4 separate regions of the Homo sapiens genome follow, and regions 1, 3 and 4 are each reported to be linked to region 2. The links are microRNA targets in miRTarBase. Many come from high-throughput screens and were not tested one by one. Region 2 holds a microRNA gene; each other region holds the end of a gene's coding sequence.
Evidence for each region. Region 2 holds the annotated microRNA hsa-miR-629-5p (UGGGUUUACGUUGGGAGAACU, at 2,307-2,327, shown strand). A microRNA usually pairs through its seed, bases 2 to 8, with sites in the 3' UTR of a target mRNA and lowers its output. Matches are read on the target gene's strand: a 7mer-m8 pairs with bases 2 to 8, a 7mer-A1 pairs with bases 2 to 7 and ends in A, and an 8mer does both.

Region 1: the mRNA of TUT7 is a reported target of hsa-miR-629-5p. Seed matches in the 3' UTR shown: 7mer-m8 at 969-975.
Region 3: the mRNA of GPR82 is a reported target of hsa-miR-629-5p. Seed matches in the 3' UTR shown: 7mer-A1 at 2,922-2,928.
Region 4: miRTarBase lists RSRC2 as a target of hsa-miR-629-5p. Seed matches in the 3' UTR shown: 8mer at 908-915.

The regions. Positions count from the first base shown.
Region 1 is chr9:86,282,183-86,289,302 of GRCh38, reverse strand. It overlaps TUT7 (terminal uridylyl transferase 7), which reads left to right. Exons shown (of 27, transcript NM_024617.4): 27 at 559-1,570. The coding sequence ends at 626. It overlaps ISCA1 (iron-sulfur cluster assembly 1), which reads left to right and starts at 6,765. Exons shown (of 4, transcript NM_030940.4): 1 at 6,765-6,925. The coding sequence starts at 6,845. RefSeq lists enhancers at 6,365-6,644, 6,765-6,914 and a silencer at 7,085-7,120.
Region 2 is chr15:70,074,634-70,081,753 of GRCh38, reverse strand. MIR629 (microRNA 629) reads left to right here and starts at 2,286; the gene lies at 2,286-2,382. TLE3 (TLE family member 3, transcriptional corepressor) reads left to right here. Exons shown (of 20, transcript NM_001105192.3): 5 at 5,596-5,658. RefSeq lists enhancers at 2,222-2,828, 2,829-3,435.
Region 3 is chrX:41,726,620-41,733,739 of GRCh38, forward strand. GPR82 (G protein-coupled receptor 82) reads left to right here. Exons shown (of 3, transcript NM_080817.5): 2 at 154-224; 3 at 374-3,511. The coding sequence starts at 408. The coding sequence ends at 1,418. The region is part of intron 5 of CASK (calcium/calmodulin dependent serine protein kinase); the gene reads right to left. Among named protein-coding and RNA genes, the nearest start is that of GPR82, 6.0 kb to the left of the region's middle.
Region 4 is chr12:122,499,156-122,506,253 of GRCh38, reverse strand. It overlaps RSRC2 (arginine and serine rich coiled-coil 2), which reads left to right. Exons shown (of 10, transcript NM_023012.6): 10 at 548-2,800. The coding sequence ends at 727. It overlaps ZCCHC8 (zinc finger CCHC-type containing 8), which reads left to right and starts at 5,322. Exons shown (of 14, transcript NM_017612.5): 1 at 5,322-5,612. The coding sequence starts at 5,414. RefSeq lists silencers at 1,985-2,185, 5,614-5,763 and enhancers at 4,277-4,968, 4,904-5,083, 5,134-5,193, 5,394-5,473, 4,969-5,662 and 1 more.

The sequences.
Region 1 (7,120 bases), not on the chromosome of region 2:
TTGTTCAGACTCCAGAACAAAATTTAGTAACTATTCTGTGGTATTGGTTTTAATCAGTAATCCTCATTTGTGTCCTCCACCTGTAAATATAATAAATTTCCCTTTTTCCTTTTATATCAATAAGTTATTGCTACAATGATTACCATCCACAGCTTCGTATCTGCAGAGTAATGATCTAAGATATTTATTTCTGGCCAGATAATTCTTTGCAATCTATTATGTTTGGCTGCAAATGAAGATACTGAATTATACAAGGCAGAACCTTAAGTTCGTCTGGTGCTCTGTACCAACATGGAAATAGTGAATATGTAAATGTATTAAAATGAGATCACTCTAGGAACCTGTCTGCATTCAGAAAGAATTTTGACTAAGCTTATATTTAATTAATCATGTGCATATATACTTTTCAATATCAAGTCTTATTACTTGATTCAAAACAAGTGACCAATTCTAGTATGAAGTTTTTGTGACTACTTAATAAGAAGTAATTTTATGGCTTTTGTCATAAAGCGAGGCTTGTTTCATTTATATTGGGTTTTGTTTCTTCCCCTCCTCTAGGTAGCCTTTCCAGTAAATATATGACTCAGGGAAAAGCCTCAGCGAAGAGGACCCAGCAGGAATCATGAGGGAAGGAAAATGCAGCACTCTAAATGGCCACTCAGGCGTTCCTATTCACTCGGAAAATTAGGTTCATTTCACAGGACACAGCAGTGTAGATCAGGCTTCAACTTAACATTTAAGGGAAATGTCAGATTTTTTTTTAATTTAATGAAATTGTTAATGAGGAAAAATTTTTAATATAGTCTTATCTACCACACATCCCCATAGATTTAAGGATTTTAATAGAAAGACATGATGTATGTATTTAAGCCACGTTAAAAGAAAAAATATAACTATGGACCGGTATTCAGTGAATACAGTTTCATGGTTTTTAATTCTTTCAAAGCACATTAAAAATGGTGTGCTGATAAACCCCAAGTAAATTAACCCTTTTTCCGTATAAATCCATTTTTTGTTTTGAAGAGGGGAAATTATATTTATTGTTGTTTACTGAATCCTGGTGTGAAAGCATATCAGATATGTATGAACTGCTACTGCTGTACTTCCGATTTACGGACATCATTTTATTGCTATTTGTAGACGTGATAACATGAACATGAGTACCTATTTATGTGGGCCTTCAGTGGATGGGCAGTGCCACTCAGGTCTCTGGGGTTTCCCTCTCTAATTTTAAGTAAATTGACATATAACTACTATGCTTATAAAAATGAAGTAAGGAAAACAAGTAGTCCTGTTTGCCACTAAAAACATTTTCAAAGGAAAAATAAAATGAAAGTACTTTTTACTTTTTATGATACTCAGAAATTAGGATGAAGAACTTTTAAAATTGCTGAAGATCAAAGAGGTTATCTCTGCCAGTCACAAGTGTGGCTGGTGTCATTCTGGGTCTGACTGGAGCCCTCCTGGACTGTTTCTTTAATTTCAAAAGCCCTGCAGACATAGTACCTGGTCAGAACTATGCCTCGGTTTATTTATCATTTTGAAATAAAATCAGAATTTCAACCTGTAATTTTATCTACATTATTTTCTAGTGAAAGATTCCTAAATTTCCTGGGGAAAAAAAAAAAAGATCAAGGAGTGAGAACATTGGGAATGATAGTAAGAGGCGTTTAACAAAAAAGAAGAAAGGACAAATATACTCCCCTAAAATAGTGTACACAGACTTCCCTTTGACTTGTGCCCTTGCAATCATTGGTGTGTGTTAACATCCAGTGTGTTCCAGGCTCTGGGAACGTATAAATTTGTTATTATAAAAGGCACAGATGGGGGTGGGGGGGCGGGGAATTTGTAGGCAGGGAGGCTCAGGGGGTGCTTGCTGGACGAACATTCTGGATGTTTGAGGACTCAGAAGACGCACATCCCTGTGCCCTTCTTTTTTAAACAATTATTTGAAGACAGTCTAGCTAAAGACGAATCATATCAAAATTAAAGACTTCAGAATTTGGAGGCCATGGTAGAAAGAATTAGTGATCATTCCCTACTCATTTTGAACGCAAACTAATGAATGACGCAACCTGGGCTGATGCTGCTCTACGTGACCGTCCTCAGCTGCCCCCTTCTGGTTTCTTCTCTCTAACTCATGCATGAAAGTCGACTAGGCTTACAATGCTTGTCACACTTTTCTTTGAAAAGCCCATTGATGCTGTTCTGTTGTTTTCTAGCATTATAGCAGAAGACAAGTCTAAGACCAGGCTGATTTTTGTTCTCTTGTAGGTTTTGTTTTTCTGCCTGGGTGCTTCTGTTTTTTAATTTTATCCCTGTAATTCAGAAAGAAAATTACCTCAATATAGAAATACATCTATCCAGTGACTTTTCATGCTAGGAAAACTTCAAGTTTAATCTCTACATGACTGGCTTAATTTTTACTGTCATTCTGGTGCTTCCTGTTTCTAATATGGATTTTCTCATTGCACTTCTAATTTTCTGGAATTTGCCTCACTGACCTTCCTTTACCTCTCATTTCTTTAGTTTACTTATATTCTCTTCCTTTTCATAGGAGCCATATTTTCTTGTATCCCTTTAAGGATGTTAAAAGTTTCCTACATTTTAATCTGATCCTTAAGGTAGCTTCTGCCCAAAGTACTGGGTCTTTTGTTTGATTTTCAATACCTCACACTGGATCCATGGGACAATGAGCAGTATTTGCCAGCAGGCCTGGATAATGGATTGCCCTTGATTCTTTACCTGGATGTGGTCGCAGCCCCATCTTGCTGCCCCAGCTGGGATGCCAAAACGTCTGCTCTTTGCTAAGTCCATTGGCCTAGCTATCTTTCAAGTGCAGCCGGCTTATCTATCTTAAGCTGTACAAATGCCCCATTACCAAGGTTCTCCTTGCCACCTTCTCTCAGGAACAAAAATATGAAATCTCTTTTGTATAGCAGTGGTCCAGTGGCCCCAATCTATGATGTTTAAAACTCTTGCTTGGCTGGGTGCAGTGGCTCACCCCTGTAATCCCAGCACTTTGGGAGGCCGAGGCGGGCAGATCGCTTGAGGTCAGGAGTTCGAGACCAGCCTGGCCAACATGGCAAAACCCCGTCTCTACTAAAAATACAAAAATTAGCTGGGCTTGGTAATGGGCATCTGTAATCCCAGCTACTCAGAAGGCTGAGGCAGGAGAATCACTTGAACCCAGGAGACGGAGGTTGCAATGAGCCAAGATTGCACCACTGCACTCCAGCCTCGGCGACAGAGCAAGACTCCATCTCAAACAACAACAACAACAACAAAACTCTTGCTCAATGTGTGCAGGATCAGCAGTGTGCAAAAATGTTTTTAAATGTTCTTAGATAACTTCAGTGTATTTTTCTTCTTGAAATATGTTTGACAAATGGCTTCTACTTTTAAATCTTTCCTGAGTGGAAAAGATCCTGGATAAATACATCAATAGAGTTCAGTGTTACAAGCAAAAATATACACACACACGTTGAAAACAGAATTTATCAAACCCCTGTAAAACTGTAAAGCCCTCAGTAGTTTTTTCTTTGGAAGCAGGCATATTTGGACAGCAGCAGTCAAGAACTACATAGACTTTCCACTGAATGGAACTCTAGACTTAGACAAGGTCTGGCCCACCTCGTTTTCCAGCTGTGTGGCAGTCCCCTAATCTCAGGCAGTTCAGTTTCCATTCCTATAAAATGGAAACCATTCTTGGCTTTCCACACAGTTGTGATAATCAAGTGAGGTCTTACCAGGAAAACACTTCTTTAAATGTCTAGAACTATGAAACTAATGCCTGAAGTGCGGGGTGAAACAGTTCCCTATTGCAAGTTCTGTCACATATTAGTGGAAATCTAAAAGTGGTTACAGCTTGTAACTCTTTTGACACTTCCCATACCCACCTCATTTTGACACCACTGGACAGCTGCTGCTCTGAGATAAGCTCACATACTGCTTAAATAATCGTGAAAATTATTTATTCTAACATAACATTATTTCAGGGACTTGTGCCAGTTTCAAGTGATATTAGAAACTAACAAGTAGATTATGTGACTTAATGCTTATGTGCAAAACAACTAACCAAGTTAAAAACTGAATAGTGGGGTTTTCTTTTTTGTTTGTTTTTGTTAAATAGTGGGTATTAAATAGAGGAAAGAAGTCTGTTAAACATACACAGGATCCTGAATCAGAAAATTGAGGACTAGATGTTTTCAATAGTGTCTAATGCTCTCTACTAAAATCCTTGAGTTTCAGCATCTGTAAAACTGCCATGCCAGTGCTTCTGCCCTACTCAGTTCAAAGTTGTGAGGCTAGTATGAGATAATATAATATGCTCATGGAGTTTTCTGAATCTTGTAAAGTGCTGCACAACTGTGTAATGTGTCAATAACTGAAAAAAAAATGACAGCATCTTTTATTTTTATTAAATTTTAATTTTAGGGCTGTTTTAGGTTCACAGCAAAGTTAAGCAGAAAAACAGAACTGCATATATCCCTTGTTTCCACATGTGCCTCACTGTCACTCTGCACCACAGTGGTACACTTGTTACAATCTTAAACCTACATGGACACATCATTAGCTCTCAGTGCCCATAGTTTACCTTAGGGTTCACTCTTGGTGGTGTACATTGTGTGGGTTTTGACAAACGCATAATGATATCTATCCACCATTATAGTAGTTTCACAATACATGGCATCTTTAAATACTCATTAACAATTACCATTTGAGTGAGGCTGTGTGCCTTGCACCCCTCTAAGGGCTTCTCCTGTATTAACTCATTTAATCTTCACAATATCTGTAGGAGGGAGGATATGAGATCCCAAACCCCCAGGTAGTCAAAGATGAAGGCCAAGAAACAAACCCACCACACCACCACCTCTCTATGTCCCTCCCTCCCTCCCTTCCTCCCTCCCATCACTTTTTCAGTTTCTTTCTTTCGAGATGCAGTCTCGCTCTGTCACCCAGGCTGGGGTGCAGTGGCGCAATCTTGGCTCACTGCAACCTCCGCCTCCTGGGTAGCTGGGATTACAGGTGCCCGCAAACACGCCCGGCTAATTTTTGTATTTTTAGTAGAGACGGGGTTTCACCATGTTGGCCAGGCTGGTCTAGAACTCCTTATCTCAAGTAATCTGCCGGCCTCCGGCCTCCCAAAGTGCTGGGATTACACGTGTGAGCCACTGCGCCCGGCCCCCAGTTTCTTTTATTTTCTTTCTTTCTCTCTCTTTCTTTCTTCTTTCTATCTGTCTGTCTGTCTCTCTCTTCCTATCTTCCGTTCTTTCTTTTTTTTTTTGAGACAGAGTCTCACTCCGTTGCCCAGGCTGGGAGTGCAGTGGCACGATCTCAGCTCACTGCAACCTCCGCCTCCCAGGTTCAAGCGATTCTCCTGCCTCAGCCTCCTGAGTAGCTAGGATAACAGGTGTGCACCACCACACCCGGCTAATTTTTGTATTTTTAGCAGAGATGGGGTCTCACCATGTTGGCCAACCTGGTCTCGAACTCCTGACCTCAGGTGATCTCCCCGCCTCGGCCTCCCAAAGTGCTGGGATTACAGGCGTGAGCCACGCGCCCGGCCCCCAGTTTATGTGCAGATAAGGCTTAGGGGAAAAAAAAAAGCGTCCTCTTATTGTCAATGCGATTGCATTTCTGTAGCAGGAAGTCAGAACTACTTGATGGAATTTTGAACTATCCTTTCAGAAACTGCAGGAGATCGAAGATAAACTTGGCTTTAAAAAATGTTTCACTGATTAGTTCTTCCCACATTCAAACACTGCGAATCTGTCCTCCCCAGGACTGCTTCATAGACCCCTCCTGCCCTTTTTCCTTCACTTCTAGCACTTCAATGACAAATGCCACCTGTCTTGATGTCCTCCTCTCTTCATCTGCTAGCCCTGTCCTGCCAGTATCTCATTCTTCCCTGGCCCCTCTTTACCTGGCTTCCTGTGTATGCCTGGGTACCGCGCCTGTGCAGTGTCTGGTGCTCAGGAATACTGCATCAAAAGGCAGAATTAAGCCCCTGAGCAGCCAGGACAAGGTCTGACAACACGTTTTAAATCGAGTAATTGTTGCTCGCTATAAATGTGACTATTCACACTGCTGCCCAGTCACATTTTCAAGTAGGGTTGGTTCCCAGTTCAGCACCAGAATGAAAACTGCATTAGTCACCACCCTTCAGCATCCCCAGCAGTACAGCACGCTGGGGAGAAGGGTGGAGGGTGGCGATTATACAACTCTGCGGTAACGCCATGCTCTTAAGAACAGCCTAATTGGACCACAAAAGAAGAATGAAAATGGATGTAGATGTCTGGGCATCGGAACGATCACTCTGCATTTGAGAGCATAAGCTCCCAGTGCAGGGTTGACTTATGCGTCCTTAAGTGTCACCGCCTATGATGGTGTTTGTCACGGTGAGTATTAAAGCAGGGGGTGACGCTGCACCTTGCCCCGGGGGCAGGTGGTGAAGCTACGTGCATCCGGAGTCAGCAGGTCTGAGGTCATTCCTCGCCCCCTCCCGCCCGCTCCCCGACGTCACGCCGACTCCGTCCTCGGCGGTGAAGACATTCCTCCCGGGCCCTGCGCCCTGCAGCGTGGTAACCCCACTGCCGGAGACCGTGCGCAACCCAGCTGCTAGACCCCCGGCGTTGAGCGGCAAAACCCCGCCCCGAGCGGCTTGCCCCGCCCCCGGCTCGTCACTCATGCAACTCACCCAATGGTGGCGGCGGGGGGCGGGGCTAGGACTGAGGGCGCCGTGCGCCGAAGCTTGTGGCGTCAATGCGCCCGCCGTGTCCATGGAGAGAAGCTGAGGCGGCCGACCTTCGGCCCGAGGCACCGGGGCGCCGGGACGGCGAAGATGTCGGCTTCCTTAGTCCGGGCAACTGTCCGGGCTGTGAGCAAGAGGAAGCTGCAGCCCACCCGGGCAGCCCTCACCCTGGTGAGTGCTCGCGGCGCGCGGCGGGGCCCGTGACATTGCTCGTGTCCGCCCCGTGCAAGGGGAGGTCACGGCGGCCGGGAGTGGGGCCGCAGGGACGCGGACACGTCAGACCTCGGCGTCGCTCCGACCCGCCGCACAGCCTCGCCGCCTCCTTCGCCTCCGGCCCCTCTTTGCAACGATAAACAAGTCCCGGGC
Region 2 (7,120 bases):
AGTACCATGCTCTTTGCATGACACTGCCCTGATTTTCCGAAGAAGAAATCCTCATTTCACAAATGTAACTAGAAGCCTAGTAGCATGGGATGGCCGCTTGCCTGTCTCACAGACGTGGAATTACTTCCCGCTGAATGCAACAACTTGGAGAACCCTGGCCTGGTTGTCTTAGCCTCACCAACCAGTCTTCCCTTTTGAATCACAGAAACTGCACAGTAGGGGCTTGACACTTAGAAGTATGATATCATTGTTCTTGCCTAGAGGCTCTTCCACAGTGAAGCGCAGTTTTGCTGATGGACAGATTTGAATGGCTCGTGCTCTGAAGACTGGTCCTTGGGACCCAGCCCAGGTCAGCCAGCTGCCCAGCAACCAGCCAGCATCCATCCACATCTCAAGGTGGCTTGGCTCTTCTCTGCTGGTCTTTTGTAAATTCATGTGATGCTCTGTTTTATGGAGGAAATGATAAGCTGCACGCCAATTCGGGAATATTTAGGGTTCTAAAACTCTAAATTAGGGCTCCTGGATCTTATACGTTATCTAGTTAATCCCTTCATTTTGCAGACAACGAAATTAATGCCTAGAGAAGGGAAGTGATTTGCCCAAAGCCACACAACTAAATGGAGGCAGAATTGGAGGTAGAAGCCAGCTCATCTCTGCGTGGCGTTGGAGCATAACACACTCTTTGAAGGGGCAGTTTTCTCTTCTCCTTGCCTTTATTTGGCTGAGGTTAAAAGGAATTGTGCATTCAGAGTCCACAGGTACACACGACAGGGCAGTTTAAAACTAACTAGCAGACAGACTCTCTGGTGGAAGTAGCTCTCGACGGTGTGTTGGACACAGTCACCTAAATTAAAAATAAGGGCAAGGACTGGCTGGGTGCTGCAAGCCCAGGAGCAGGAGGTTGCTGGGGGGTACAGATCAAGAGCAGGCTCCGTTTCCCTTAATTTAGTGTCTTGGGTCAAGGGCCAAGGATAGTCTGAAGTAGCAGCAAACGTGAATACTAGACTGTGGTTAGAGAAATAGACTTTTAGAATGCTCAAGTACCCTCGGTTTACAGCAAGATGTTCAGAGGTCCTGCTTTAATGAGGAGATGATCATGCAAATGGGAGCTACTAAGGCGCATGGAACAGATTGCTGTTTGGGAAATTACACTTGCCCCCCACTATCTTGTTTTCTGTCATTTATTTGCCTAACAATCTTGACAGAGATGCAGGGCAGATGTTACTCCCAGCGCCCAGTTGGTAGTGCAGATTCCGGATGTAGCAGGACCTCTGTCCCCATTTCTCTGAACTGCTTCTCTGTCTGTATCTAGTAGATTAGTTCCTTCTGAGGAACAATGTTTTTCCACCAACAAAGCGCCTGCTTTGAACCATACTTGAAAAGAAACTTTCAAAGGCGGCACCAGCCTCCCTGAACACCTTTTCCAAAGTGCTTTCCAAAGGGAGCCATCTTCCCACCTCCCACCACCTCTCAGATTCGCTTCTGAAGACCTGGCTCAAAAGCAGTGGCTTTGTGGGACCGAGATGGAGGGAAGGATGGAGGTCGGCCTCTGGAAACTACAGCCGCCTTATCGATAACGGATTGCGCCAAGTTGCCAAAAGGAGTTTTCCAACATACGATCGAGTTCCAGTTTGTGATTTGTGACCTGTCCCAATTGTTGAAGTCACACTTGATTTTTTTTTTTTTTTTTCCTTTTTTGGAACTGATGTTTAGAGCTTGTTTGAGTTGGATCCAATGCTGTTTTAACAGCTGTTCTAATCAGAAGTGCTGTCAATTATTAACCTTAATGGTGGTTTTTCTTTCAAAAATATTTCTCTAAGCTCTCTTGAAATGTCAAAATTTGGCTTCTTGGTAGGAAGTCATTTAGTGAAATCACTTAATGGCTGGGCATCAGTTTCCCCATCTGAAAAGTGGAGATGTTGACAAGCGCCTTCTCCGCGGGGTTATTGTGGATGCACACATGGCGAGTTGGGTGGGTGATATCAGCGGTCATTACTGTTGTTAGGAGGGCTTCTGTTAAGCCAGCTTTCCATTTCCAGGAACTTCCCCTCCCCCAAGCGCCACCCTCCAAAAAATAAACATTTCTTTAAAATGTTGAGCGAACAGCTTTCCTGTTCATGCTTTGACTCTGCAGAGTGCACGCAGCCCATTCTCAGGGTTGGGCAGCCTTTGTAGAGATGGGGGAGGCCCAATCCCTGCTTCCACTTTGTGGGGAGACCCCAAGAGGGTACTAGCAGATGATGGCACAGTGACAGCTGGGAGGGATGGGATGTGCTTGCTTCATGTCCCTTTCCCAGGGGAGGGGCTGGGTTTACGTTGGGAGAACTTTTACGGTGAACCAGGAGGTTCTCCCAACGTAAGCCCAGCCCCTCCCCTCTGCCTGCCTCAACCCTACACAGTCCTGTCTGGTGACGTGCCAAAGTCCTTCCTGCCTTGCAGAGAGGCCTCTCTTCGTCGAACATGGGCCTCAGGAAAGACAGCCTGAATGCCACTACCCCAGGCTTGTGGAAGGTTCTGCATCTGTGTGGCATTGTTGCGATAGCCCTCAGTTGATGCTTGTTTGTGGTGTTGGGAGGCAGGAACTACTTTAGGAGGGTGGAGGGGTGAGAATGAGAGAGGACTTGCCCTGAGCCACCCAGCTGTGGTCACCTGATGGCCCGGATGGCTACATAAATCCTGGGAGATCCGTTGTCCTCATAACCAGAGTGAGCTGGGCTCCAGACCAGCCCTATGGGAAGATCCTGTCTGTGGGAAGCCTTTGGCCACGTGTTTGCTGAAGGGTGTGGGGAAGGGCAAGGTCAGCTACGTTTCTTTTTTGTCAACTCCCGAGACCCTGACCCTTGGCCTGTTTACCAGTGGAAGGAGGCCATAGCCAGAACCCTTTTATAATCACCCTGCCTCCCTGCTCTCCCAGAGACTGTGAGAGTTAATAGTTGCTGAGGAGGCCAGAATGACTGGGGATGTTCTGACCTTGCCCCTGCCTTCCTGGCTGTGGGGAGGAGTAGTGGCCAGGGACCCATCTAGGTGGCTTGCGATTGGCCTGGCTTGGAGGTGCCACCCCACCCCGTTGGTGAAGGGCTTGGGCCACTGGCCACCAAGTGTATGTCAACACTCCATCCACCACGGCCCCTCCCACAGATGCTGCCCATGCTGGGGCAGGCCCAGATCCACAGCAAGGGGTCACTGCAATATGAAGTCTCAATAAATGCAGAGATGCCAGTGATACTATTCTTTGGGCCAAACATTTACGGAGCAGCTACTGTGTGCCAGACACTGCTCTATTGTTGTTTAAGATAACAGGCCTTGGACCTGTGAGCTTCCTAAACAGTAAGGTTGGTTTTTTTTGTTTATTTTTGTTTGCTTTTTGTTTTTTACATATCTTTCTATTCTTATTTGGTGCATGAACTCAAAGGTGAGAGAACTTGTTACTCTGCCGGTTTGGAGTGAGCTGCAGCCTATGCTTGTTTCTAGAACTCCTGCCCTATCCAACCCGGACTTTTTTGCTTCATTCCCCATTCCTACTATCAGTTGATTTAGGCGAGGAAAAAATAAGCAGAGTGAGGAAGGACCCTGTTTGGGAGAGCTCTTCCCACTTAACTAGATTAACAATTTATATAATGATTATTTAGTAATCCTCCTGGGTTCCTTAGAGTATGAATGACGGGTGTCTAGTGGGTGGAGAGGCCAGGGATGCTTTTAAAAGCCCTGCAGTGCACAGAACGGGCTCCACACAGCAGTGAATTATCTGACCTCAGATGTCAATAGCATGGTGTTTGAGAAACCCTGATGTATGGTGTCCTGGCTAGAGTGCCCCACACATGTGTCAATGTGGAGTCCCAGTGGGTCTGAGCTGGGCAGTTTGGAAGTGGGGGCCATTGTTGACACAGTTGGCCTGGGATATGAGCGACAGTCCTTTATAACAGGAATTGTCTCTCCCCAAATGCCAACAGTGGTGCTGGCTGGGAAACACTGACTCTGTTCCTGAGGAGCTAGAGTGTTCTAGGCAGAAAGCTGACAGCAGTGATTCCTGATCCTCTCCCTGCCAGGAACCCCCACTGTAGCGGACAGGCTCCGTAGGTTGGCGAGCCCTGCCACCGTGGCTGGCAGCCCAGGACACAGGCCTGCAAAAACCCATAAGGCTCTTTAGTTGATGGCCTGCCTTTCCACAAACCAGAGGCGTCCTCTTTAGTGGCCAAGGGTGGAGGGGGTGGAGGGTGTTAGCCCAAGGAATTCTCCCGAGGTCCAGGGTCTATTTATGCGCCTTCAGATTGTTTTTATTTTAAGTGCACAAGGATTTCTCATCCAGAATCATTTGACATGCAGATGATCACAGATTTTTAAAGGCTGTTGTCATGGTTTTGTCTCTGAAAGATTGCTATGTGCTGATGAAAGCTTTGAAGCCAGCTTTGGGACCTCAGTCCTGGCGGGCTCAGGATTCAGAATGAGATAAGAAAAGCAATTCTGAGAGTCGTCTGTCAGTGGTTCTAGGCCTTTCTATCTGGACTCAGTTAACCCGTATAGCACCACTCTTGATCTGAGATCTAAAGTTTACATAGGATACTGGTGGAAACTGTTGACTTTCTAAATGCAGTCTTTTCTAGGGTGTTGGGAGATGAGGCAGAGAATTGATCTACCTTTCTAAGATTGACTTCTGTGAGGGATTAGGGATCTAATGAATTACATCTCTGAGCAGCTTCTTAGACAAGGCAATGCTATATCCTAAAAAATGAAGTGTTGGCTGGGCATGGTGGCTCCTGTCTGTAGTCCCAGCCCTTTGGGAGGCCAAGGTGGGCAGATCACTTGAGCCCAGGAGTTTGAAACCAGCCTGGACAACGTGGCGAAACCCAGTCTCTACAAAAATACAAAAATTAGCTGGGAGTGGCAGTGCACCTATAGTCACAGATATTTGGGAGGCTGAGGCAGGAGAATCACCTGAGCCCAGGAAGTCGAGGCTGCAGTGAGCCAAAATCATACCACTGTACACCAGCCTGGGTGACAGTGAGACCCTGTCTTAATGGGAAAGAAAAAAAAAGAAAGAAGGCTTAATGGTAGGATTTTAGCCTGGTAGCATATATGTGGGGGAGGGATTGATCTTGGTGAGGGAGAGGCTAGTCCCAGGGAACCCTTTGCCACATAGGACCGCTTATCAGCTTAGTCCCATTTATCTGAGAGCTCATGTCCTATTGGCACTGGGCACCAGTGGGCAGAGCAATTCCTCTCTCACTAAACTGTGTTTCACTCTTACAGTGGGTTTTGCTGGGTTGTTGGGGGTGATTTTTATTTCGTTTTGCTTTAATTAGGGATTCCATCCAGAGGATGCAAACTATATTCTGAACCAGACATGTAGACTACCTCTGATGGAAATTGGAGCTCCCTAAAATGTAGGCAGCCTGGCTGCAAGGGAGTTGAAAGAGATTTCTTCATGCTGTGGATTTAGCTAGAGCCTCCTGGTAGGAGGCTGACTGAGGGCAGAAAGGATGGAGCCCCGTGGAGAGGGGCTGTGGTCTGGGGGGAGTTTGCATTTCCACTTGCCTATGACATTTCAGTGACTTGATTTATTTGCCTGAGCTTCATGTGGTCTCCTTGCCTTTGCAGACAGAGATTGCGAAGAGACTGAACACAATTTTAGCACAGATCATGCCTTTCCTGTCACAAGAGGTAAGACCTTCTTTTATTATTTCTTCCTTTTCTTTCCAAATCAGCCCAGTGGCTGGTGGGGTCTCACTGGAGCCTGAGCCCCAGCCCCAGCCCCAGCCTCAGCCCCTGTCCATTCATACTGACTGAGCTGACAACCTGGAGATTTCCAGAGCCTTCTCCGGCCAGTCTGGAGGCAGGGGGCCATATCAGAGGGACCATTTGCTCCTTCTTCTCATAGAATTGTTTCTCTGCCATCACCTGAGTCCAGAGATTGGAGTGCTGGCATGCGACCTAACCATCAGTGGGCAGTGGGTGCCTCTTTCCCATCCAAACTAGCATCCCCAGCCCAAAGTGGACCTCAGTTCCTGGTACAGAGTGCCCTTGCTGGGAGCATGACCCAGGTGGTCATGTCACTTTCTACGCCTACCTTCCAAGGGACCTCCATTTGGGACAGCGGCTGGACTAGTGGGTGATTTGAGATAAATGCCTGCAAAGAAGCCCCCTGGTGCCGACCAGACAGACGGGCCGACTTTAGTGGGCTCTGTTTCTGTCCTCTGATTTCACTCCAGCCAGGGCAGGCCCTGCCCTCTACTCCCACTCAGTGGCTGGGACCATGTCAGCTCCCTCAGGGACTCCTAATGGTGACCTGAGTAAATGATTGAATTAATATATAAGAATCAGATATGGCAATGCCCTCGGAGCTTGCAGCCCAGTAGGAGAGAAAGCTGTGTATGTGGCTGGTACTACCTCAAGGCCAAAGGGAATTAATGCAACCACTTTTTAAAATAGACTTTATTTTTTTAAGAGCAGTTTTAGGTTCACAGAGATTTCCCATATCCTCCCCACTATCAACATCCTCACCAGAGTGGTACATTTGTTGAAACTGATGAATCTACATTGACACATCATCACCCAAAGTCCGTAGTTTACATTAGGGTTCATTTTACCACTTTTTCTTTCTCTATCTGTTCATCTGGAAACATACTTTGTTTTCTCTCTATTTAGACAGGTATGGATAAGGTATATGTAGACATACTTTTTCCCCAAATCCTTTGACGGTAAATTGCAGATATCCTGACAATTCACCACTAACTACTATAACTGCATCTCCTAAAAACGGATACCATCCTTCATGATTACAGTATTGTTACCATGTTTAGAGAATTAATAATCATCCTGTAATATCATCTGATATCCAGCTCATACGCAAATTGCATGGAAAAATTTGTGTGTGTGTGGTTGACTAATAGCCATCTTTTGGCATGCTCTTTGTTTTAGAACTTAAAAGGAAGTTTCAATTACAAAACTAATACATGCTCATTGAAAAAGGTCTAAAAGAGAAAGTAAAATCGCCTGTCACCCTCCCCCCTACTTGTGCCCTGTGCCTGTTCAGTGGGACTCCTCTGTCTGCTCTGGGCCTCTCCGAGAGGCCCTGCCAGTGCTGCACAGCCTGTGACCTCCTCTGTCCAGGAAAGTGGCTGCA
Region 3 (7,120 bases), not on the chromosome of region 2:
GGTTACATGTGCCTTAAAATTTTTTAAATTATATTTCTAGGAAAAATCAATCATCACTTACAAATTGTTTTACAATCTAAGAACTATACATTTCTCTAAGTAAAATTATAAATCCCAGGCATGTAACTATTCACATCAAATTTTGTTTTTCAGACAAAGGCATTATCCATCACAATAAGTAACTTTTTGTCTTTATTTCAACCGGACAATCGTGATTAGAAAAGGTAAGAAGCCATCTATACTTTCCCGTTCCATCCAATACATTTTTGTTACTATTTTATTTAATTCAATGTTTTTCTTTTTTAAAAACTATTCAGCTTAAATACTGTACCAAAAATAATTTTAATATTAAATATCTGCAATTCTATTCTAGCTCCTGTGACAAAATTCAAGAAAACCTGACATAAATGAACAACAATACAACATGTATTCAACCATCTATGATCTCTTCCATGGCTTTACCAATCATTTACATCCTCCTTTGTATTGTTGGTGTTTTTGGAAACACTCTCTCTCAATGGATATTTTTAACAAAAATAGGTAAAAAAACATCAACGCACATCTACCTGTCACACCTTGTGACTGCAAACTTACTTGTGTGCAGTGCCATGCCTTTCATGAGTATCTATTTCCTGAAAGGTTTCCAATGGGAATATCAATCTGCTCAATGCAGAGTGGTCAATTTTCTGGGAACTCTATCCATGCATGCAAGTATGTTTGTCAGTCTCTTAATTTTAAGTTGGATTGCCATAAGCCGCTATGCTACCTTAATGCAAAAGGATTCCTCGCAAGAGACTACTTCATGCTATGAGAAAATATTTTATGGCCATTTACTGAAAAAATTTCGCCAGCCCAACTTTGCTAGAAAACTATGCATTTACATATGGGGAGTTGTACTGGGCATAATCATTCCAGTTACCGTATACTACTCAGTCATAGAGGCTACAGAAGGAGAAGAGAGCCTATGCTACAATCGGCAGATGGAACTAGGAGCCATGATCTCTCAGATTGCAGGTCTCATTGGAACCACATTTATTGGATTTTCCTTTTTAGTAGTACTAACATCATACTACTCTTTTGTAAGCCATCTGAGAAAAATAAGAACCTGTACGTCCATTATGGAGAAAGATTTGACTTACAGTTCTGTGAAAAGACATCTTTTGGTCATCCAGATTCTACTAATAGTTTGCTTCCTTCCTTATAGTATTTTTAAACCCATTTTTTATGTTCTACACCAAAGAGATAACTGTCAGCAATTGAATTATTTAATAGAAACAAAAAACATTCTCACCTGTCTTGCTTCGGCCAGAAGTAGCACAGACCCCATTATATTTCTTTTATTAGATAAAACATTCAAGAAGACACTATATAATCTCTTTACAAAGTCTAATTCAGCACATATGCAATCATATGGTTGACTTTTGAATGGAAAACCCCACAATATTAAGAAAAGCATTCATGTGACTTTATTAGGGACACTAAACTACATCATTAACATGTCACAGCTTGGTTGACAATAATCACCAAGAAAATCTCTTTGGTTTTTAAAAATAAATAAACATATATTCATAAAACTCAAAAAACAGTTATACTGAACGTTGAGATGGCAGAAACTTTCAGAAGCAAAAATTAAGCATATTGAAAGGATCCCACTCATATGAAACTAACAGGCTGTTTTCTGTTTAAACTCAACTGTCAGTGCTTCTGTTCAGAACACGTTATTTCATGACTAGGATAAAGAAGCAAATGGTTTATGACTTGTCTGCTTTCTGGTAGTTAGAATACAAGGGTCAATCTATGGCTAGTGTTTATTGGTAATTTTAAAATCTTTAAAAATAAGTAGCTGGGCACAGTGGCTTACGCCTGTAATCCCAGCACTTTGGGAGGCTGAGGTGGGTGGATCATTTTGAGGTCAGGAGTTCAAGACCAGCCTGGGCAACATGGTGAAACCCTGTCTCTACTAAAAATACAAAAATCAGCTGGACATGGTGGTGGGCGCCTGTAATCCCAGCTACTCGGGAGGCTGAGGCAGGAGAATCGCTTGAGCCCGGGACGGAGGTTGCAGTGAGCGGAGATCGTGCCACTGCACTACAGCCTGGGAGGCAGAGCGAGACTCTGTCTCATAAAACAAAACAAAAAAATAAAAATAAGTAAAAAAATAAATAAGAAATATCCTCATTCACATCTTACCTAAATGCATGAATAATACAGTGAAAAAAATCCAAGGTTTTATAAACATATTATTTATTTGAAATTATCTGGCTCATGTTATTGGGGAGAAGCAATATTCATTGACTATATTTTTAAAGCAGATGATACTTATAAAAATGCTTAAATATTTGGATTAGGCTTTGTCAAAGTAAAAAGCTATGTCATTATATGCCCATCTTCATCACATTGTGCATATTTTCTTCTGTATTCAATATAAATAATGTTATTAGTGACAAACAGTACCTGGCAGTTAATTTTTTGTGAAATAAATGAATGAATAATAAGGGAGTGTAATAGTATTGCAGTTAAGAGATTGATCTCTGAAGTTATACTTCTTGGGTTCAATCTGGCTCTACTTTTTATTTAGCTGGACAATCTTAGGCAAATTAACTTATCCTCTGTACGTGTTAATTTCTTCATTTGTAGAGCAGAAAATACTATCTTATTTACAGATCCTATTATTAAATCAGCTGTTACTATTATGAGTAGCTAACGCTTAGTAAGCACTTGCTGTTTGCCAAGCATTCTACTTATATGCTTTACATATATTATTTTAATCACCACAACTCTAAAGTATACTAATTTACTGATGAAAATATTGAAGTGGGCTGGGTGCGGTGGCTCATGCCTGTAATCCCAGCACTCTGGGAGGCCGAGGTGGGCAGATCACCTGAGGTCAGGAGTTCGAGACTAGCCTGGCCAACATGGCGAAACCCACCTCTACTAAAAATACAAAAATTAGCTGGGCGTGGTGGTGTGTGCCTGTAGTCCCAGCTACTTGGGAGGCTGAGGCAGAAGAATCACTTGAACTCGGGAGGCTGAGGCAGGAGAATCACTTGAACTCAGGAGGCGGAGGTTGCAGTGAGCCAAGATCATGCCATTGCACTCCAGCCTGGGCGACAGAGTGAGACTCTGTCTCAAAAAAAAAAAAAAAAAAAAAAAAAAAAAAAAATATATATATATATATATATATATATGTATGTATGTATGTATATGTGCATAGTTAAGTAAATCACCCCAATTTTTTCTAATATTTAAGTGAACATTTAAAGATAAGCATTTCTTAATGTTAATTTCTTTTCTTTCATGTAATCTTGTCAGTAGACAAATGATGGTGACTATATTCTGTAATAAGTACATATATTATGATTAAAAAAAAAAGCGTGTACTATCTGCCCAAAGAGATCATAAGCACTTTGGAGCTATAAACTTCTTGTCTATTTCTACTTCCATGGTACTGATATTCTCTTCTCAGATAACCAAACAAAAACAGCTGAATAAAATCAACCATTAATAGTAACTTGCCACTTTGTTAGAGACTGCTTAAAGACTCCTTTTTTTCTTCACATAGTAATTACTTCAGTGTCCAAAATGAAGTTTAAAGTAAGTTCACGTAATCCTTCCAAGGCTTTAATCTCATAGCATGTTTTGTTCCTGAGTTAGAGCTGTAAAAGCAATTCACAGTACATTGCCCAAGAGCCATGTGTTCAAAAATCACCAGAGGTTATTCCGGGGGCAAAACAAACAAACAAAAAACCACACACACACACACACAAAAACCCAGTAAATTTTTTTTTCCTTTTCTACTTTGATGCTTAACTGAGACATGAAAATGTTCTGAGAAAAGTCTGAACACATTCTGGCTTCAAATATTTACAGTGAGTATCAATTCGTTTATAGTAGTAATTGGATTTTTGGCTCATTAATGTGCAGAGACAAAGGAGATTTGGGAACTTGAGGTGACCGCCCTGAATGCTAGCTGTAAATGGAAGTGTCCAATCTAGTGATTTCTAGACATGTAAATCATAGAGTAACTCAAAGTCCATCAGGGAGAGTTCCTGAGATGCACAGATTTCTCCACAGTTACAAAAGTAGTTTTATTCTTTTTATGAGATGGGGTCTCACTCTGTCACCCAAGCTGGAGTGCAGTGGCGTGATCTGGCTCACTGCAACCTCCACCCCCCCGGGGTCAAGTGATTCTCCTACCTCAGCCTTCTGAATAGCTGGGACCACAGGTGCCCACCATCATGCCCGGCTAATTTTTGTTATTTTTTTGTAGAGACGGGGTTTCGCCATGTTACCCAGGTTGGTCTCGAATTCCTGAGCTCAAATAATCTGCCCATCTTGGCCTCCCAAAGTGTTGGGATTACAGGGGCAAGCCATTGTGCCCAGACTAAGTAGTTTTATTCTTACATGAGTTTTGAGACCAAAACTCATCCGACTAAGACAGTAATGTTTGTTTAACATAAGCTATACTGCATGTAATAATCTCACTGGACTTAGGAGTTTTAAAAAAATACAACTTCCAGTCAGGTACAGTGGCTCATGCCTGTAATCCCAGCACTTCAGGGGGCTGAAGTGGGGGGATCACTTGAGCCCAGGAGTTTGAGACCAGCCTGATCAACATAGTGAGACCACGTCTCTACAAAAAATAGAAAAATTAGCTGGACATGGTGGCACATGTCTCTAGTCCTAGCTACTTGGGAGGCTGAGGTGGGAGGATCTGTTGAGCCCAGGAGGTTGAGGCTGAAGTGAGCCATGATTGCACCACTGCATTCCTGCCTGGGTGACAAAGCGAGACCCTGTCTCAAAAACAAAAACAAAAAACCCAAAAAATACAACTTCTAAAAATAATTATTTAAAAAACAATCACTTTACAGCTCTACCACTACTTTAAACAAAAAATATTTCTAGAGATTCTTACATTTAAAAAGGCAGGAAAAGAGATATGCAATTTCTCTTTAAGTTACTCATTCTGATAAACTCACATTTTAATTTCCTATACTGAAGAATGAACTATATACTCAGCTCATTATCATCATGGATATCTTTACACCATAGATGCTTTCCTAAACAGTTGATTTTAAATCATGTTGAATTTTTTTATGTAATTGAAGAACTGGCTATTTAATGGCATAGTAAATATTTTACTTAAAATATCACTTCTGTTTTTGGAGACAGGGTCTGTCTCTGTCGTCCAGGCTGGAGTACAGTGGTGATCATAGCTCACTGCAGCTTCAAACTCTTGGGCTCAGGTGATCTCACCACCTCAGCCTCCTGAGTAGCTAGGACTACAGGTGTGTGCCATCATGCCTGGCTAATTTTTGTATTTTTTTTTTTTTTTTTGTAGAGATGTGCTCTTGCTATGTTGCCCAGGCTGGTCTTGAACTCCTGGGCTCAAGCGATCCTCCCGCTTCAGCCTCCCAAAGTTTTGAGATTATAGGTGCAAGCCACTGTGCCTGGTTTTAAAATCACCTTCAAAACTTACCCTATTTTAAAGTTTGGATTTCAAAAAAACAGTGTTTTTAATGTGTCTGTGTGAGTTACAGTCAAACACAAATTTGGGGTTTCAGGAATCTCAAATTTTGACTCAAAGGCCAACAAGATTTTATCTTAAACTGTAGAAAACAGGCATACACATACTCTCATTAAGGCAGCTTTCAAACTATAATCAGGAACACAAACCATTAAGACTAGACAAAATTTAGGATAAACAACTTAACAGGGAAGTAAGTTTCTACTCCCTGGATAGAAGAGGAAGATGGCCCATTCTGTTCAATTTGCTGAGGACTCTAGGCCTATCACTGGCCTTGTGCTCTGTCAGGGTGGGAGTTACGGGCAAATCTGGGAAGACAAGGTGAAAGGAAATCCTGCCGGCAAACCACAAAGGGAGAACAGAGGGAACACTGGTAATCTGCTAAGCATAAGCATTTCAATCCAGCAGCCTAATGCCACAAACCTTCCTCTGATGGCCCCTACACTCAAATGGAATTGATAACACTGGGAAGAGTTACTACAGCTATAGTTGCACCTGACAGAAAAACCTCTGGCTATATCACACACGCTACTCCTGGCTCAGAAGGAGAGGAACAGTAAAAGGATTCACTTCTAATAAGCAAAAGAATTTTTTTTTTTTTTGAGATGGAGTCTCACTCTGTTGCCCACGCTGGAGTGCAGTGATACAATCACAGCTCATTACAGCTTCAACCTCCTGGGCTCAAGCAATCCTCCTGCCTCAGCCTCTCCAGTAGCTAGGACCACAGGTGTGTGCCAACACACCTGGCTAATTTTTATTTTTTGATAGAGATAGGGTCTTACTGGCCAGGCGTGGTGGCTCACAAGGTCAGGAGTTCGAGATCAGCCTGGCCAACATGGTGAAACCCTGTCTCTACTAAAAAATATATATATAAAAAAAATTAGCTGAGCGTAGTGGCAGGCGCCTGTAATCTCAGCTACTCAGGAGGCTGAGGCAGGAGAATTGCTTGAACGTGGGAGGTGGAGGTTGCAGTGAGCTGAGACCGTGCCACTGCACTCCAACCTGGGCAACAGAGCGAGATTCCATCTCAAAAAAAAAAAAAAAAAAGGAGAGAGAGAGATAGGGTCTTACTATGTTGCTCAGGCTGAGAAACTTAAAACCAAGGAGTTGATTTCTTTTTTTGTAGGAGTAGGCTGGGCAAAGAGAAGTATAGCAGTTAGAAACACAAGATAAATTTATAATAATCATGTAATCCATGAGATCTTCCTAAGTACAATTATTAAAATGCCACATTAAAACTGAACGTGCACATTATGTTAAAAAATCTTATAAAAGAAATGCAGAAGATTAACCAATGTTAATATAATAATAAAGAATAGTGGCTGGGCACGGTGGCTCACGCCTGTAATCCCAGCACTTTGGGAGGCTGAGGCGGGCAGATCATGAGGTCAGGAGATCGAAACCATCCTGGCTAACACAGTGAAACCCCGTCTCTACTAAAAATACAAAAAAATTAGCCGGGCATGGTGGCGGGCACCTGTAGTCCCAGCTACTCGGGAGGCTGAGGCAGGAGAATGGCGTGGACCTGGGAGGTTGAGCTTGCAGTGAGCTGAGATGGCGCCACTGCACTCCAGCCTGGGCGACAGAGTGAGA
Region 4 (7,098 bases), not on the chromosome of region 2:
TATATTTTTGTTTGTTTGTTTTTTGTTTTTAGTATAGACGGGGTTTCACCATGTTGGCCAGGCTAGTCTCGAAATCCTGACCTCAGGTGATCCACCCGTCTCAGCCTCCCAAAGTGCTGGGATTACAGGCGTGAGCCACACTGCACCCGGCCAAAAGTATAATTTAATAGTGTCAGCCTAGTTCACACCTGTAATCCCAACACTTCGGGAGGCCGGGGGGCAGGCGGCAGGGGGGATCCCTGAGGTCAGGAGTTCGAGACCAGCCTGACCAATGTGGTGAAACCCCGTCTCTACTGAAAATACAAAAATTAGCTGGGCGTGGTGGCATGTGCCTCTAATCCCAGCTATTTGGGAGGCTGAGGCATAAGAATTACTTAAACCCAGGAGGCAGAGGTTGCAGTGAGCCGAGATGGCACCACTGCACTCCAGACGGGACAACAGAGCAAGACTCCATCTCAAAAAAAAAAAATACATAAAAAATAGTGTCAAGTGAGAGAATATTTATCTCCATCTGAATTCATTGTAATGTTTTATGTCTGATTTTTAGAGTGAAGATGAAGCTGGATGTAGCTCAGTTGATGAAGAAAGTTACAAGACTCTGAAGCAGCAGGAAGAAGTATTTCGAAATTTAGATGCTCAGTATGAAATGGCAAGATCACAAACCCACACACAAAGAGGAATGGGTTTGGGTTTCACATCTTCAATGCGAGGAATGGATGCAGTTTGAAAATGATCACACTTGTAAAGTTTGGGACTTATAGACTTCTTGTTCTGATGTCACGTCCTTGTTCACCAAACAGCTAGCACTCTAGCTTGCATGGGTGTTGCATTGACTTTAATTTATTGAAAAATACAAATTTTTGTAAATATCAGATCAGTGATACTGGTGTTAGTGTTGTAATCAGGTTAAACCCACTTCCATTAAACTTGACAGGACTATAGAAGGATAATATTTTTTAGTTCATGAATTCTACTTTTCAAATATATAAAAGCTGCAGGTGGGGATAAAATCTCATACATGGATTTTTTCGTGTCCGCTGTCTTGTGTACTTTTGTACTTAACCTTGTACAGTTATTTTCATCTCTTGAAACATGAAAGAAATGTTATGTAGATGTTCTTTAGAAGATCTGGCCATTTGGTACATAATCCAGCACAGATAAGCTGGGTGGTAATGATAATAAAAATGGTTTTCTCAAAACTGGTGTTAATTTAAGTTACCTGGGATGTTTCTTTGAATTTGTTTTATAGTTTCTGTAGCATTTGGCAATTGCTGTTAGAAAACACTAGCTAGAAATCCCCTCCCCACCACCCTTTTTAAGGCCAGTTAACTATACTACAGTCAATACCGTGGTGAGCAAAAATGTAAAAGGTGGAAGGAGAAAACTTACTAAAATAGTATGTTTTCCTATTATAAGGGACAGACTTGGTATTCAGTATTTGTCAAATATTACATGTGTTATTCAGGAGATAGATTAATGCATTAAAGGGATGTAAGCACTTTTATTTTAATAAAGTGCCTTATAACAAGTTCTTTGCATGCTTTTTGCTCATTATCCCTTTGAAGTCTTCTCCAGCATAGACTATAAAATATTAAAATATTAGAAATTTTTTTTGTTTGTTTTTTTGAGACAGGATCTTGCTCTGTTGCCTAAACTGGGTGCAGTGGCACAATCTCGGCTCACTGCCAGAGCCTCTGCCCCCCAGGTTCAAGCAATTCTCCCACCTCCACCTCCCATGTAACTGGGATTACAGGCGTACCACCGCACCCAGCTAATTTTTGTATTTTTAGTAGAGGTGGGGTTTTACCATGTTGGCCAGGCTGGTCCTGAACTCCTGACCTCAGGTGATCCACCCTCCTCAGCCTCCCAAAGTGCCGGGATTATAGGCGTGAGCCACTGCAGCCAGCCTAGAAAATGTTTTGTTACTAGATTGAACATAAATCTGGAGCCAAGGGGTGGGGGGGGCCTGCAAAACTTGAAGTTAATTTACTTCAGTTACAGCAAAGTAATAAGGTTTGGCTTTCCTTTGAAAAATCCTTTGGAAAACATCACAGAATGAGAGCACATTACAATCAGGGAAGACTACAGGAATAAGATTGACAGCCTTATTTTAAAAGCTGGAATTAAGTCTTGCCAACTTGCTCATTAGGTATTTTTTTTATACATGAAAATGAAGTAATGGGGTGTTTTCTTTTTTTTTGCTTTCTGTCCTAGGCTGGAGTGCAGTGCATTGCAGCAGGCTCCCCCAGGCTCAAGCAGTCCTCCCACCTCAGCCTCTTGAGTACCTGGGACCACAGGTGCTCACCAACACACCTAGCTTGTTTTTAATTTTTTATAAAGACAAGGTCTTGTTACGTTGCCCAGGTTGGTCTTGAATTCCTGGCCTCAAGCAATCCTCCCACCTCAGGGCTCCCAAAGTGATGGGGTTACAGGTGTGATCCACTTCACCTAGCCAGATTGTAAGATTTTTAATGTACTTTAATAAACCTTTCATTTTCCCAGAGCACAGAAATTCTATGGCAAAATGGCTTTTCACCGTGTTTCAGTGACAAATCTAAGCCTTCTAAGGAAATGACACTATGGATCCTTCATTTCGTGATCATCAACATTTTTCAATTAAGCTCTGCCTTTTTAAATCAATCTTATTAAAAATGTTCATGACCTTCTAAGGCAGTGTGGACGCAAAAGCTTCCTGTGTGTCTACAGTTATTTTAGGAGCTGACCATACATGATGAGTGATACAGCCTGTACTTTGCTCATCTAGAGCAGCACTGTCCAATAAAATATGTGTGTATATGTATATTGGTCCAAGTGATCTTCCCACCTCACTCCCCTGAGTAGCTGGCACCAAAGGCCCATGACAATGTACCTGAGATGGGGTTCTCAGGCTGTTGGCCAGGCTGGTCTCCCACTCTTGGCCTCAAATGATCTGCATCATCTCAGCCTCCCAAAGTGCTACCTGGGATTCAGGTGTGAAGCCACAGTGCCTGGCCTAAGTATTTTATTTCAATTTCTTTTTTGAGTAGCCAAATGCAAATAATTAAAAGATGAAATTACAGTTGTCCCTTGAACACATGGGTTTGAACTTTAGGGTCCACTTACATGCAGAATTTTTTTTTCTTTTTTTCTTTTTTTTTTTTTTGTGAGAGACTCTTTTGCCCAGGCTGGAGTGCAGTTGCATGATCCTAGCTCACTGCAACCTTTGTCTCCTGGGTTCAAGCAATTTTCCTGCCTCAGCCTCCTGAGTAATTGGAATTACAGGCACCCGCCACCACGCCCGGCTAATTTTTGTATTTTTCGTAGAGACGGGGTTTCACTATGTCAGCTAGGCTGGTCTTGAACTCCCGGGTTACACCATGTTGGCCAGGCTGGTCTTGAACTCCTGACCTCATGATCCACCCGCCTGGGCCTCCCAAAGTGCTGGGATTACAGGCGTGAGCCACCACGCCAGGCCTCATGCAGATTTTTCAGTGAAAGTAAACCTGGGAGGCGGAGGTTGCAGTGAGCCGAGATCATGCCACTGCACTCCAGCCTGGGTGACACAGTGAGACTCTGTCTCAAAAAATAAAATTTCAAAAAAAAAAAATTTAAATGGCCAGGCACAGTGGGTCATTCCTGTAATCCCAGTATTTAGGGAGGCAGAGGCAGGAGGATAGCTTTAGCTCAGAAGTTCAAGACCTACCTGGGCAATATAGGGAGATCCTGTTGTCCACAAAAAGAAAAAAAAAATGTTAAAATGTGTAAGTGACTTCCCAATGTTGTAAACGGAAAGAGGCTTCCTTAAGGGCCTTTGAGCACTGACCTAGCAGTGTTCCAACCTCATCTTGCTCCACTCTGCCTTTTCACTCAACATGGTGGTCCTTACACCTAAGACACTCTTCCATCCTCCCACCCCCAACTTTGCCGATCCTTAAAGTCTCACTTCCTCACTTTACTGACTCCCACAGACTAGGGTGTTTGTTAAATATTCATAACTTCCTGTGTTTTTCACCTTTTTTTTTTTTTTTTTTTTTTTGAGACAGAGTCTTGCTCTGTCGCCCAAGCTGGAGTGCAGTGGCACGATTTCGGCTCACTGCAACCTCTGCCTCCCGGGTTCAAGCGATTCTCCTTCCTCAACCTCCTGAGTAGCTGGGATTACAGGCGTGTGCCACTACGCCTGGCTAATTTTTGTATTTTTAGTAGAGACAGGGTTTCTCCATGTTGGTCATGCTCGTCTTGAATTTCTGACCTCGTGATCCACCTGCCTCGGCCTCCCAAAGTGCTGGGGTTGCAGATGTGAGCCACCGCCCCCGGCCCACATTTCTTTGTGTGATCAATATCCATCAACAACCATCTCGACCCAAGAACAGGAACATTTATAATTATGGGGTTTTTGTTGCTTTTTGTGGACTACAGCCTTCGTGAGAGGAGGAATTACTCTATTGTGGTTACTCTTGTAACCATACTCAGGTCCTAGACAAGTGCCTGGCCCATCGAAGGTGTAAGTAAATAATGTGATTGAATGACAGAAAGCCTCAACAGACAAATAGTTGAGTCTAGCTAATCTTACATTAAAAACGAAGCAAGCTCAATAAACTAATCTACAACAGTCATCTCTGTAGCAAAGCTGGAGTTTCTTATTCTCTTTTATGTTTATTTTTATTCAGTTCCCTTTCAGGCTATGGAGTTCCTTATTCTCTGGTGTGGCACGCACACCAGAATCTGTGAGAAGCTATGCGTCGTGCTCTGATTTTTCACCCTTAGTTGCCTAACAGGAACATCCCATACTGGTTTTTGTTTTTCTTTTTCTTTTTGAGACAGGGTCTTGCTTTGTCTCCCAGGCTGGTGTGCAGTGGCGCCATCTGGGCTCAATGCAGCCTCGACCTCTTGGGCTCAAACCCTCCCGCCTCAGCTTGCCGAGTACTTGGGACTACAATCGCCCAGCTAATTTTTATATTTTTTTGTAGTGTCTGGGTCTCGCTCTGTTGCCCAGGGTGGTCTCCAACTCCTGGGCTCACGTGATCCTCCCACCTCTGCCTCCCGAGTAGTTGGTATTACAGGTGTGAGCCACCCCGCCCTGCCCCCAGATTGCTTTAGCGCATTCTGACCTACTCCAGCTTTCTTCACATTTCAAAAAGCACCAATCCCAGGATGCAATGCAGACAATGAGTACCAGTCGCTTAGAAACCACACGTCCCAGCATGCCGTCCTCCGGGCAATCGCAAGCCCGATAGGCCCCGCTGCATTCCGGGAGTTGTAGTCTCTAGCGACTGGCCCCGCCCCGTGTGCAGCTTTCGCGGCCTGCGTCTGGAGAAAACCCTAGCGGGTGGCTCCGTGCGGCCAGAGCTCTAGAGAGTGGTGCCGCCTTCCAACCTTCTTCCCCAAGCCCTGGTGGCCGGCTCCGCCTCTTCTCGAATCTTTTCCACAGCCCAAAATGGCCGCAGAGGTGTATTTTGGCGATCTAGAGCTCTTCGAGCCGTTCGACCACCCAGAGGAGTCGATTCCGAAGCCCGTTCACACTCGCTTCAAGGACGACGACGGCGACGAGGAGGACGAAAATGGGGTCGGCGACGCGGAGCTACGGGAGCGGCTTCGGCAGTGCGAGGAGACCATCGAGCAGCTCCGCGCCGAGAATATCCTTTCCTCTCGCTGGGCCCTGTCACCCGGGTGTGGGGCCGGGGCAGCGCCAGGCGTGGGGCCGGGGCAGCGCCGGGCGAGGGCGAGGGCGCGGGCGGAAGTTCCAGGAGGGCCAGAATTCCAAGTGCTTTCTGTCACCCGCCGGCGGACCGAGAGTCTAGGGTTCGGGGCGCGCAGGCTGCCTCGGCGCAGACCTCTTCCCCTCAGGGAGGCCGTCTCCTGACCAGACCCACTCCTGCCTCCCACCCGGGTGCCGTGTTTAGGGTTATTTTAGGCTGCTCACCTGACAGATTGTACACAAGCCCTTAATTGCCCCCCTCTGTTTGAGGTCGTGGTGAGGTTTCATATTTCGCAGCCACGCTCAAATTGTGCCGTCATGTTACAGTTGTAGGTGATGAAATACCGGCTGCTTAGACGCGGGATCGGTTTTTATACCGGGGCAAACGCTAGTGGTCCCAGAATGCAGAGTTGGGGGCCTCAAGGAATCCGGGTGTGCTGAGATAATTGGTTAATTGCTTGATTAAAATTGGGGATTAATTTTAGAGTTCTTCCACTCGGAGCTCGCTTCTGTGCTGAAGATGCTTTGCAACGCCTTGAGGAAAACGCGCCAAAGAAGTTTCTGTTAGACTTGAGTTACAAGATTGCAGATTTTTCTTGATTTGCTAGTATGTTTTTTTTTACGTTCGTAGAGTTTTATAGGTAGATAGATAACTTTGGTTCGGGTAGTTTTCCTTTTAAAATTTGTAGAGAACTGAAAGTGGCTGATATGTTAGCTTTTTTAGGGGGACGGGGTCGGGGAATGGAGTCTCAGTCTGTTGCCCAGGCTGGAGTGCAGTGGCGCGATCTCGGCTCACTGCAACCTCCGCCTCCCGGGTTCAAGCGATTCTCCTGCCTCAGCCTCCCGAATAGCTGGGATTACAGGCGCCCGCCACGGCGCCCAGTCAGTATATCAGTTTTTAAGGTTTGTGAAGCGCGATTTATTTTTTCAGAATGTCGTCTTCCTCCACATTGTGAGGAAAATTTTCAGAATACAAAAAGTTGAGGCCGGGCGCTGTGGCTCAAGCCTGTAATCCCAGCACTTTGGGAGGCCGAGGCGGGTGGATCATGAGGTCAGGAGGATCATGAGGATCAGGTGGATCATGAGGATCAGGAGGTCAGCCTGGCCAACATGGTGAAACCCCGTCTCTACTAAAAATACAAAATTAGCCGGGCGTGGTGGCGCGTGCTTGTAATCCCAGCTACTCAGGAGGCTGAGGCAGGAGAATCCCTTGAACCTGGGAGGCGGAGGTTGCAGTGAGCCAAGATCACACCATTGCACTCCAGCCTGGGCGACAGGGTGAGACTGTGTCTCAAAAAAAAAAAAAAAAAGTTGAAAGGATTCTACAGTGGACATCCATAGATTTATTCCAAATTCTAAAGTTGTTAACAGCTCGTTATACTGCATTCTCTTTATCACATAGTGGTTGTTGAAAGGTTTGACAG